Regions from separate parts of the Homo sapiens genome. Here region 2 is linked to region 1. Evidence: fine-mapped expression QTL. A gene starts in region 1. The other region holds a variant in brackets. All regions are shown on one strand. Distances are from middle to middle. Region 1 holds the start of TBL2 (transducin beta like 2). Region 2 has its middle 18 kb from the start of FZD9.

What was found. PIP is the estimated chance that this variant, and not a neighbour inherited with it, causes the effect.
Region 2: its variant is the best candidate, but not a certain one, in a credible set for the expression of TBL2 in subcutaneous fat (FUSION, PIP 0.59).

Annotation. Positions count from the first base shown.
Region 1 is chr7:73,576,608-73,580,990 of GRCh38, reverse strand. TBL2 (transducin beta like 2) reads left to right here and starts at 2,412. Exons shown (of 7, transcript NM_012453.4): 1 at 2,412-2,571. The coding sequence starts at 2,442. RefSeq lists an enhancer at 1,761-1,830 and a silencer at 2,161-2,800.
Region 2 is chr7:73,413,605-73,417,987 of GRCh38, reverse strand. No RefSeq gene overlaps it. Among named protein-coding and RNA genes, the nearest start is that of FZD9, 18 kb to the left of the region's middle. The variant A/G (reference allele first, on the strand shown) is at 2,573.

The sequences.
Region 1 (4,383 bases):
AGAGATGGGGTCTTGCTATGTTGCCCAGACTGGTCTTGAACTGCTAGGCTCAAGCAATCTTCCCACCTTGGCCTCCCAAAGTGTTGGGGATCACAGGCTTTAGCCACTGTGCCTGGCGGCTGTAATTATTTTAAAAGAAGTTTTCTTCTTTCTTTCTTTTTTTATTTATTTTATATTTATTTTTGAGATGGAGTCTCACTCTTATCACCCAAGCCGGAGTGCAGTGGAGCAATCTTGGCTCACTGCAACCTCTGCCTCCCAGGTTCAAGTGATTCTCCTGCCTCAGCCTCCCGAGTAGCTGGGATTAGAGGCGTGGGACACCACGCCCAGCTAATTTTTGTACTTTTGGTAGAGACGGGGTTTCGCCATGTTGGCCAGAGACGGGGTTTCACCATGTTGGCCAGGCTGGTCTCGAAGTCCTGACCTCAGGTGATCCTCCCGCCTCGGCCTCCCAAAGTGCTGGGATTACAGGCATGGGCCACCGCACCCGGCCTTAAAAGAAGTTTTCTGGCCGGGCGCGGTGGCTCAAGCCTGTAATCCCCCAAGCACTTTGGGAGGCCGAGGCGGGCAGATCATGAGGTCAGGAGATCGAGACCATCCTGGCTAACACGGTGAAATCCCGTCTCTACTAAAAATATTTTTAAAAAATTAGCCGGGCGTGGTGGCGGGCGCCTGTAATCCCAGCTACTCGGGAGGCTGAGGCAGGAGAATGGCATAAACCCAGGAGGCGGAGGTTGCAGTGAGCCGAGATCGCGCCACTGCGCTCCAACCTGGGCAATAGAGCAAGACTCTGTCTCAAAAAAAAAAATAAGTTTTCTATGAAAAAATTTCCTGGTCTGGGCCAGTCGCGGTGGCTCACACCTGTAATCCCAGCACTTTGAGAGGCTGAGGCGGGCGGATCACGAGGTCAGGAGTTCAAGACCAGCCTGACCAATATAGCGAAACCCCGTCTCTACTAAAAAATACAAAAAATTAGCGGGGCATGCTAGCGGGCACCCGTAATCCCAGCTACTCGGGAGGCTGAGGCAAGCGAATCGCTTGAACCCGGGAGGCAGAGGTTGCAGTGAGCAGAGATGGCGCCATTGCACTCCAGCCTGGGCGACAGTGCAACGAGACTCCATCTCAAAAAATAAAAAATAAAAATAATCTCCCAGCTCGGCATGGTGGCTCACGCCTGTAATCCCAGCACTTTGGGAGGCCGAAGCAGGTGGATCACCTGAGGTCAGGAGTTCGAGACCAGCCTGGCCAACATGGCAAAACCCCCGTCTCTATAAAAAACACAAAAAGTAGCAGGGCATGGTGGCACGCGCCTGTAATCCCAGCTACTCTGGAGGCTGAGGCAGGAGAATCTCTTGCACCCGGGAGACGGAGGTTGCAGTGAGCCGAGACGCGTCACTGCACTCCAACCTGGGCAACCGTCTCAAAAGTAAATACATAAATAAATAAATAAAATAAGTTTTCTATTAAAAATTCTCCCTTTTAACTTTCGACTTGCCAGGCCAGCCCCAAATCCAGGCCCTCGTCACCTCCCTCTCGGATCCTTGAAGCCACTGCCGGTTTTCTGATTTTGGTCTTTTCACACAAAGGTCCATCCAGGGAATCCTCAGACACAGCTTTTGCCCCACCTCTCCCTGTAATGAGCAGCTTGTTGGATGGAGCCAGCGCTCAACGTCCCCCAGACCTTTCCGCCCCTCTAGCCATTTCCCACATCCCAGCTTCTCAGGTCTTTGCGGAGGCTGTTCCACTCCACGCGCCTGGCCTACTCTTCCTTAAAAGCCCATCTGAACTTTCGCTGATGCTGAGTTTCCTATCCGTTAAATGGTAATAATAATCCCCGCCCCGCTTCCTTGAAAGGATCCAGTGTGGTGATGGCTGGAATAATGCCTTTAATAAACAATTATCAGTGAGTTCTTCAGGAGGAGGCGTGAGCAGTGATCGCAAATCCCGCCTTCCTCCGCCCTCCGCAGCCCTGCAATCTCAACCGCCAGGCGACCCGCCCCTCGAAACGCACCAAGGGTCGAGCCCTGCCCCTCGAGATGTTCTACTTCCAGGCCCCGCCCCTCGAGACACTCTACCTCCGGGTTCTGCCCCTCGAGACGCTCTAACAACCCAGCCCCGCCCCTCGAGACGCGCTAACTCCAGACTCTGCCTCTCGAGGCGCTCTAATAACTAGGCTCGGCGGGTGGAGATGCTCTAACTCCAGGCCCCGCCCCTCGAGCGCCACAACAGCCGGGCCCCACCCCTTGAGGTGCTTTAACGGCCAGGCCCCGCCCTGAAGGCGTTGTAACAACCAGGCTCCGCCCCCAGGCGCTCTAACGGCCAGGCCCAGCCGCTTGAGGCTCCCCAACGGCCAGGCCGCGCCCCCGCGTGCGTGCGCGGCCCGGCAGAGCCGTGCGGGCGCCCGCGTACTCACTAGCTGAGGTGGCAGTGGTTCCACCAACATGGAGCTCTCGCAGATGTCGGAGCTCATGGGGCTGTCGGTGTTGCTTGGGCTGCTGGCCCTGATGGCGACGGCGGCGGTAGCGCGGGGGTGGCTGCGCGCGGGGGAGGAGAGGAGCGGCCGGCCCGCCTGTAAGTGGGGCCGGGTCGGGTGGGGGCGGCCCGCGGTGTCCCGGCTCCCGGCCTCCTCGTGGTCCGACCTGCGGTTTGGGCCCGCGGCTGGTGGGGCCCGGCGACTCCATGGGCCTCAGTTTCTCCTCTGGTAACGTGAGCTTCGCTTCCAGAGACGGGGACCCGCCTTGCCGGGTTAGGCGCACCTCCTGGGGCGGGACTGGCTCCAACCTGGGCCCCTTACTGCGGCTTTCTCTGTGGCCGAGGCCAGGCCGTCCCCGGGGTGGCCAGGAGAGCACCGTAAACTCTTCAGCCTGCTCCGTGGCCGCGATCTCGGAAAAAGCACCAATTCTGTGATGTGCAGCAGCATTTACTGGGCATCTATGACCCTGTGATAGGCTTTGGGGTCTTTTTCTGTAAGGAGTCCAGTAAAGGAGAAGTACATCTGTATTATGAACACCTAAATATGTAAGTGAAAAACACGGTGAAATAAGTTTCACTGAGGCCAGGCGAAGTGGCTCACGCCTGTATTCCCAGCACTTTGGGAGGCCGAGGCAGGGAGATCGCTTGAGCCCAGGAGTTTGGGACCAGCCTGAGCAACATAGCAAGACCCCATCTCTACGCAAAATTAGCTGGGTGTGGTTGTGCACGCCCCTGTAGTCCCAGCTCCATGGGAGGCCGAGGCAGGAGGGTGTCGTGAGTCCAGGAATTCAAGGCTGCAGTGAGTTGTGATAGATCGCGCCACTGTACTTCAGCCTGGGTGACGGCAAGAGCCTGTCTCTGAAAAGTTTCATAGAAGAGGTTAGTACTAGAAATGGGAAACACCAGAGAGTCAGTGGGCAGCCCTGCTCTTTTTATTTATTTTTCAGACAGAGTTTCGCTCTTCTTGCCCAGGCTGGAGTGCAGTGGCACAATCTTGGCTCGTTGCAACTTCCGCCTGCCAGGTTCAAGCGATTCTTCTGCCTCTGCCTCCCGAGTAGCTGGGACTACAGGCACACACCACCACGCCTGGCTAATTTTTGTATATTTAGTAGACGGGGTTTCGCCACGTTGGTCAGGCTGGTCTCGAACGCCTGATCTCAGGTGATCCACTCGTCCTGGCCTCCAAAAGTGCTGAGATTACAGGCGTGAACCACTGTGCCCGGCCAGCCCTGCATTTTTTTTTTTTTTTTTTTTGCAGGGGGACGGAGTTTTGCTCTGTCGCCCAATCTGGAGTCTAGTGGCGGGATCTCGGCTCACTGCAAGCTCCGCCTCTGGGTTCACGCCATTCTCCTGCCTCAGCCTCCTGAGTAGCTGGGACTACAGGCGTCCGACACCACACCCGGCTAATTTTTTGTATTTTTTGAGTAGAGACGGGGTTTCACTGTGTTAGCCAGGATGGTCTCAATCTCCTAACCTCTTGTGATCCACCTGCCTCGGCCTCCCAAAGTGCTGGGATTACAGGCGTGAGCCACCCTGCCTGGCCGAGTCCTGTTCTTTTATGGGGGAGGTGGTTGTTAGGGAAATCATTACTGAGAATAGGGGGCACATGAGGTAGTGTGGGGTCTCAAAGGATGGTTCTAGAAGAAGAGTTTGCCAGAAGGCCAAGGAAAAAAGACATTCCTGCCAATGGCAATACCCGAGAAGGCAAGGAGTCCCCAAACAGCATTTGGTATGACTTAAGTGTGAGGAGGGGGGCTTGTTAGACATGCCTGGAGAGAAGGAAGCAGAGGACAGATTGTGGCTGTGTTTGTTTGCAGGGCCCAGGAGCTTTTTTCCTGTTGGAATTGGGGAGCATCTGCAGTCATTTACCACATGCCAGCTTTGTGACTCAATTAAGTATCTTTTACAAAA
Region 2 (4,383 bases), 160 kb after region 1:
CTTCTTAGTGTCATACCCACACGGGTCAGCCTGGTGATCAGGGCTTGCTGGGCCTTAGTGACCTGCCATTGCTCTCCCAGCCCCACTCATAGAGCCTGGGTTCCCAACACCTGTGTCTCTCACCCAGCCCAGACACACCAGCAAGCCCAGTGCTTGGCTCACACCTTTGCCCAAGACAGTCCCTCTGCTGGCTATACCCTTCTTGACTGTGGCTTTGTGCTTACTTTTCTTAAGGACAAAGAAATATAATACATCTCACTTATAATCACCTTTTTTTTTTTTTTTTGAGACAGAGTCTTGTTCTGTCACTCAGGCTGAAGTGCAGTGGTGTGATCTCGGCTCACTGCAAACTCTGCCCCCTGAGTTCAAGCAATTCTCCTGCCTTAGCCTCCCAAGTAGCTGGAATTACAGGTGTAAGCCACCATGCCCAGCTAATTTTTGTATTTTTAGTAGAAATGTGGTTTCACTGTATTGCCCAGGCTGGTCTGGAACTCCTGGCCTCAATTGATCTGCCCGCCTCAGCCTCTCAAAGTGCTGGGATTCCAGGTGTGAGCCATTGTTCCCGGCCTATAATCACATATTTAAAAATAACAAGCATAATGTTTTGTGCAAACTTTAAATTACAGTATATATGCATTTAAACAATAAAGTCTGGGCGCGTGGCTCACACCTGTAATCCCAGCACCTTGGGAGGCCAAGGCAGGTGGATCACCTAAGGTTGGGAGTTCAAGGCCAGCCTGACCAACATGGAGAAACCCCCACTCTACTAAAAATACAAAAATTAGCCAGGCGTGGTGGCGCATGCCTGTAATCCCAGCTACTCGGGAGGCTGAGGCAGGAGAATCGCTTGAACCTGTGAGGCCGAGCTTGCGGTGAGCCAAGATCGCATCATTGCACTCCAGCCTGGGCAACAAGAGCAAAACTGTGTCTTAAAAAAAACCAAAACAACAACAACAACAAAAAACGATAAAAAGTGAGCTACCGTGCCGGGCACAGTAGCTCACCTGTAATCCCAGCACTTTGGGAGGCTGAGGCGGGTGGATCACCTGAGGTCAGGAGTTCGAGACCAGCCTGGCCAACATGGTGAAACCCCGTCTGTACTAAAAATACAAAAATTACCCGGGCGAGGTGTCACACGCCTCTAATCCCAGCTACTCAGGAGACTAAGGCAGGAGAATCGCTTGAACCCAGGAAGCGAAGGTTGCAGTGAGCCCAGATCACGTCATTGTACTCCAGCCTGGGTGACAAGAACAAAACTCTGTCTCCAAAACAATAACAACAACAAAACAAATGAATAAAACTAATTCTATTCATTTGCTTTTATTTATTTATATTTAACTTTATTATTATTATTATTATTTTGAGACAGAGTCTCATTCTGTCACCCAGGCTGGAGTGCAATGATGCGATCTCGCCTCATGCAACCTCCATCTCCCGGGTTCAAGCGATTCTCCTGTCTCAGCCTCCCAGGTAGCTGGGGTTACAGGTGTGCAGCACCACACCTGGCTAATTTTTTTATTTTGAGTGGAGATTGGGTTTCATCATGTTGGCCAGGCTGGTCTCGAACGCCTGACCTCAAGTGATCCGCCCACCTTAGCCTCCCAAAGTGTGGGGAGCCACTGTCCCGGCGTATTATTACTTTTAGAGACGAGGTCTTGCTTTGTTTTCCAGGCTGGAGTACAGTGGCTCAATCATAGCTCACTGCAGCCTCAAACTCCTGGCCTCAAGCAATCCTCCTACTTCAGCCTCCCAAAGTGCTGAGATTATAGGTGTGAGCCACTGCACCCGGCCTCTCTATTCTCTACTTCCTCTTTCTGGAATTTCTATTAGGCGGATGTTGAATCTCCTGAATTAATCTCTAATTTTCTTCCCTTCCCATTCCCTTCCCTTTCCCTTCCCCTTCCCTTCCCTTCCCCTTCTCTTCCCCTCCCCTCCCCTCTCCTCCCTTCCCCTCTCCTCCCCTCCCTTCCCTTCCCTCCTTCCTTTCTCTCTTTCTCTCTCTCGTTCTCTCTTTCTTTCCTTTTTCGTCTCATTCTGTCACCCAGGCTGGAGTGCAGTGGCACTTCTCAGCTCATGGAAACCTCTGCCTCCCGGGCTCAAGCAATTCTCATGTCTCAGCCTCCCGAGTAGCTGGGATTACGGGTGCACACCACCACACCTGGCTGATTTTTGTATTTTTTTCGTAGAGACAGGGTTTTGCCATGTTGGCCGGGCTGGTCTTGAACTCCTGACCTCGGGTGATCCACCCACCTCAGCCTCCCAAAGTGCTGGGATTACAGGTGTGAGCCACCGTGCCCAGCCTTAACTACCATATTTTAAATTTACTGGAGGACTTTTTTGTTCTCTTTTTTTCTTTTTTTAATAGCATCCCGCTCTTATTTCAGAATAAAAAAATTTTTAAGGTATGTTGAGTAAGAATCTATAGAGCAATGAAAATGCAAGAGCAATAGCTATGGGCACCAAATGGTCAATCTTCTTATCATAATGTTGAGTGGAAGAAGCCAGGTCCACCAGACACATGCTGCTCATTTATGCAAAGTTTGGACACAGGCAAAACAAAACTAGTTTGATC[A/G]TGATGGGAAACATTAGAGAAATGCAAAGACATGACCATCATAATTGTCAGGAGAAGGCATTGGTTAGGATTGGGAAGCGGCAAGCAGAAGCATCTAGGGATTGGCTGGCAATATTTTACTTCTCGGCTGAGTGAGGGTTGCATCGGTGTTTATTTGATAACACGTTCTAGGGGCTGGGCAAGATGGCTCATGTTTGTAGTCCCAGTACTTTGGGAGGCCAAAGATGGGAGGATTGCTTGAGCCCGTGAGTTTGAGACCAGCCTGGGTGACATAGCGAAACCCTGTTTCTAAAAAAATTAAAAAAAAAAAAAAAAAAACTAGTTGCACGTGGTGGCACAGCCTCAAACTCCTGGGCTCAAGCGATCCTCCCTTGGCCTTCCAGCCACTCAGGAGGCTAGGGTGGGAGGATCGCTTGTACCCAGGAGTTTGAGGCTGCAGTGAGCTATGAATGAGCCACTGCACTCCAGCCTGGGCAACAGGGCAAGACCCTGTCTCAAAAAAAAAAAAATAATTTGAACACTTCTGTTTTGTGCAGTTTTCTCTGTTATATTTTACTTTTTAAAAAGAAAAAGCGGCCGGGCGCGGTGGCTCACACCTGTAATCCCAGCACTTTGGGAGGCCAAGGTGGGAGGATTGCTTGAGGCCAGGAGTTAAAGATCAGTCTGGGCACCATAGCAAGATCCCATCTCTACAAAAAATAAATTTTAGAAAATTGAAGGGCTATTTGTTCTTCCCCTCCCTAGCATTCTGTTCTTGTGCAATGGAAAAGAAAGTATTGAATACAGCCGGGCACAGTGGCTCACGCCTGTAATCCCAGCACTTTGGGGGGCCAAGGCGGGCGGATCACCTGAGATTGGGAGTTCAAGGCCAGCCTGACCAACATAGAGAAACCCTGTCTCTACTAAAAACACAAAAAATTAGCCGGGCGTGGTGGCACATGCCTGTAATCCCAGCTACTCGGGAGGCTGAGGCAGGAGAATCGCTTGAACCTAGGAGGCGGAGGTTGCAGTGAGCTGAGATCGCACCACTGCACCCCAGCCTGGGCAACAAGAGTGAAACTCCATCTCAAAAAAAAAAAAAAAGGTACATGAAACATATGAAGCAAAAAGTGAAAGTCCCCATTCTTTTCCTTTTTCCAGAGGTGATTTTTGTGGCCAATCTGGTTTCATTTCCTCCCAGACACTTTTCTAGGCATCTATGTGCCTCTATTCACATATAAACAAAATAGGAGTTTTCCTGTGCTTCCCTTAAATGGCATATGTATCATTCACTCTATTTTTTCACCTAGTGGATCTTTAATACCTTAAAAGCTCAACCTGGGCTTGGTGCGGTGGCTCATACCTGTAATCCCAGGCCTTTGGGAGGCCAAGGTGGGAGGATCACTTGAGCGCAGGAGTTCCAGACCATTCCAAAGCCAAAAAAAAAAAGGAGTTTGAGATCAGCGTGGGCAAGTTAGCAAAACACCATCTCTAAAAAAAAAAAAAAAAAAAAAAAAAAATTAGCCAGGCATGGTGGTGTAAGCCTGTAGTCCCAGCTACTTGAGAGGCTGAGGTGGGAGGATTGTTTGAACCCAGGAGGTTGAGGCTACAGTGAGCTGTGATTGTGCCACTGCACTCCAGGCTGGGTAATGCAGCGAGACTGTGTCTCAAAAAATAAATAAAATAAAAAATAAATAAAAGCTCCACCTGTCTTCCTTTTAGATGTTGCATAGCATTTCACACAGTATTGATGTATTACAGCTCAACTAAATTAATCCCAGTATCTAGCACATGGGGTGGTGGGAAGGATTAAGGGAGATAATATAAGCCAA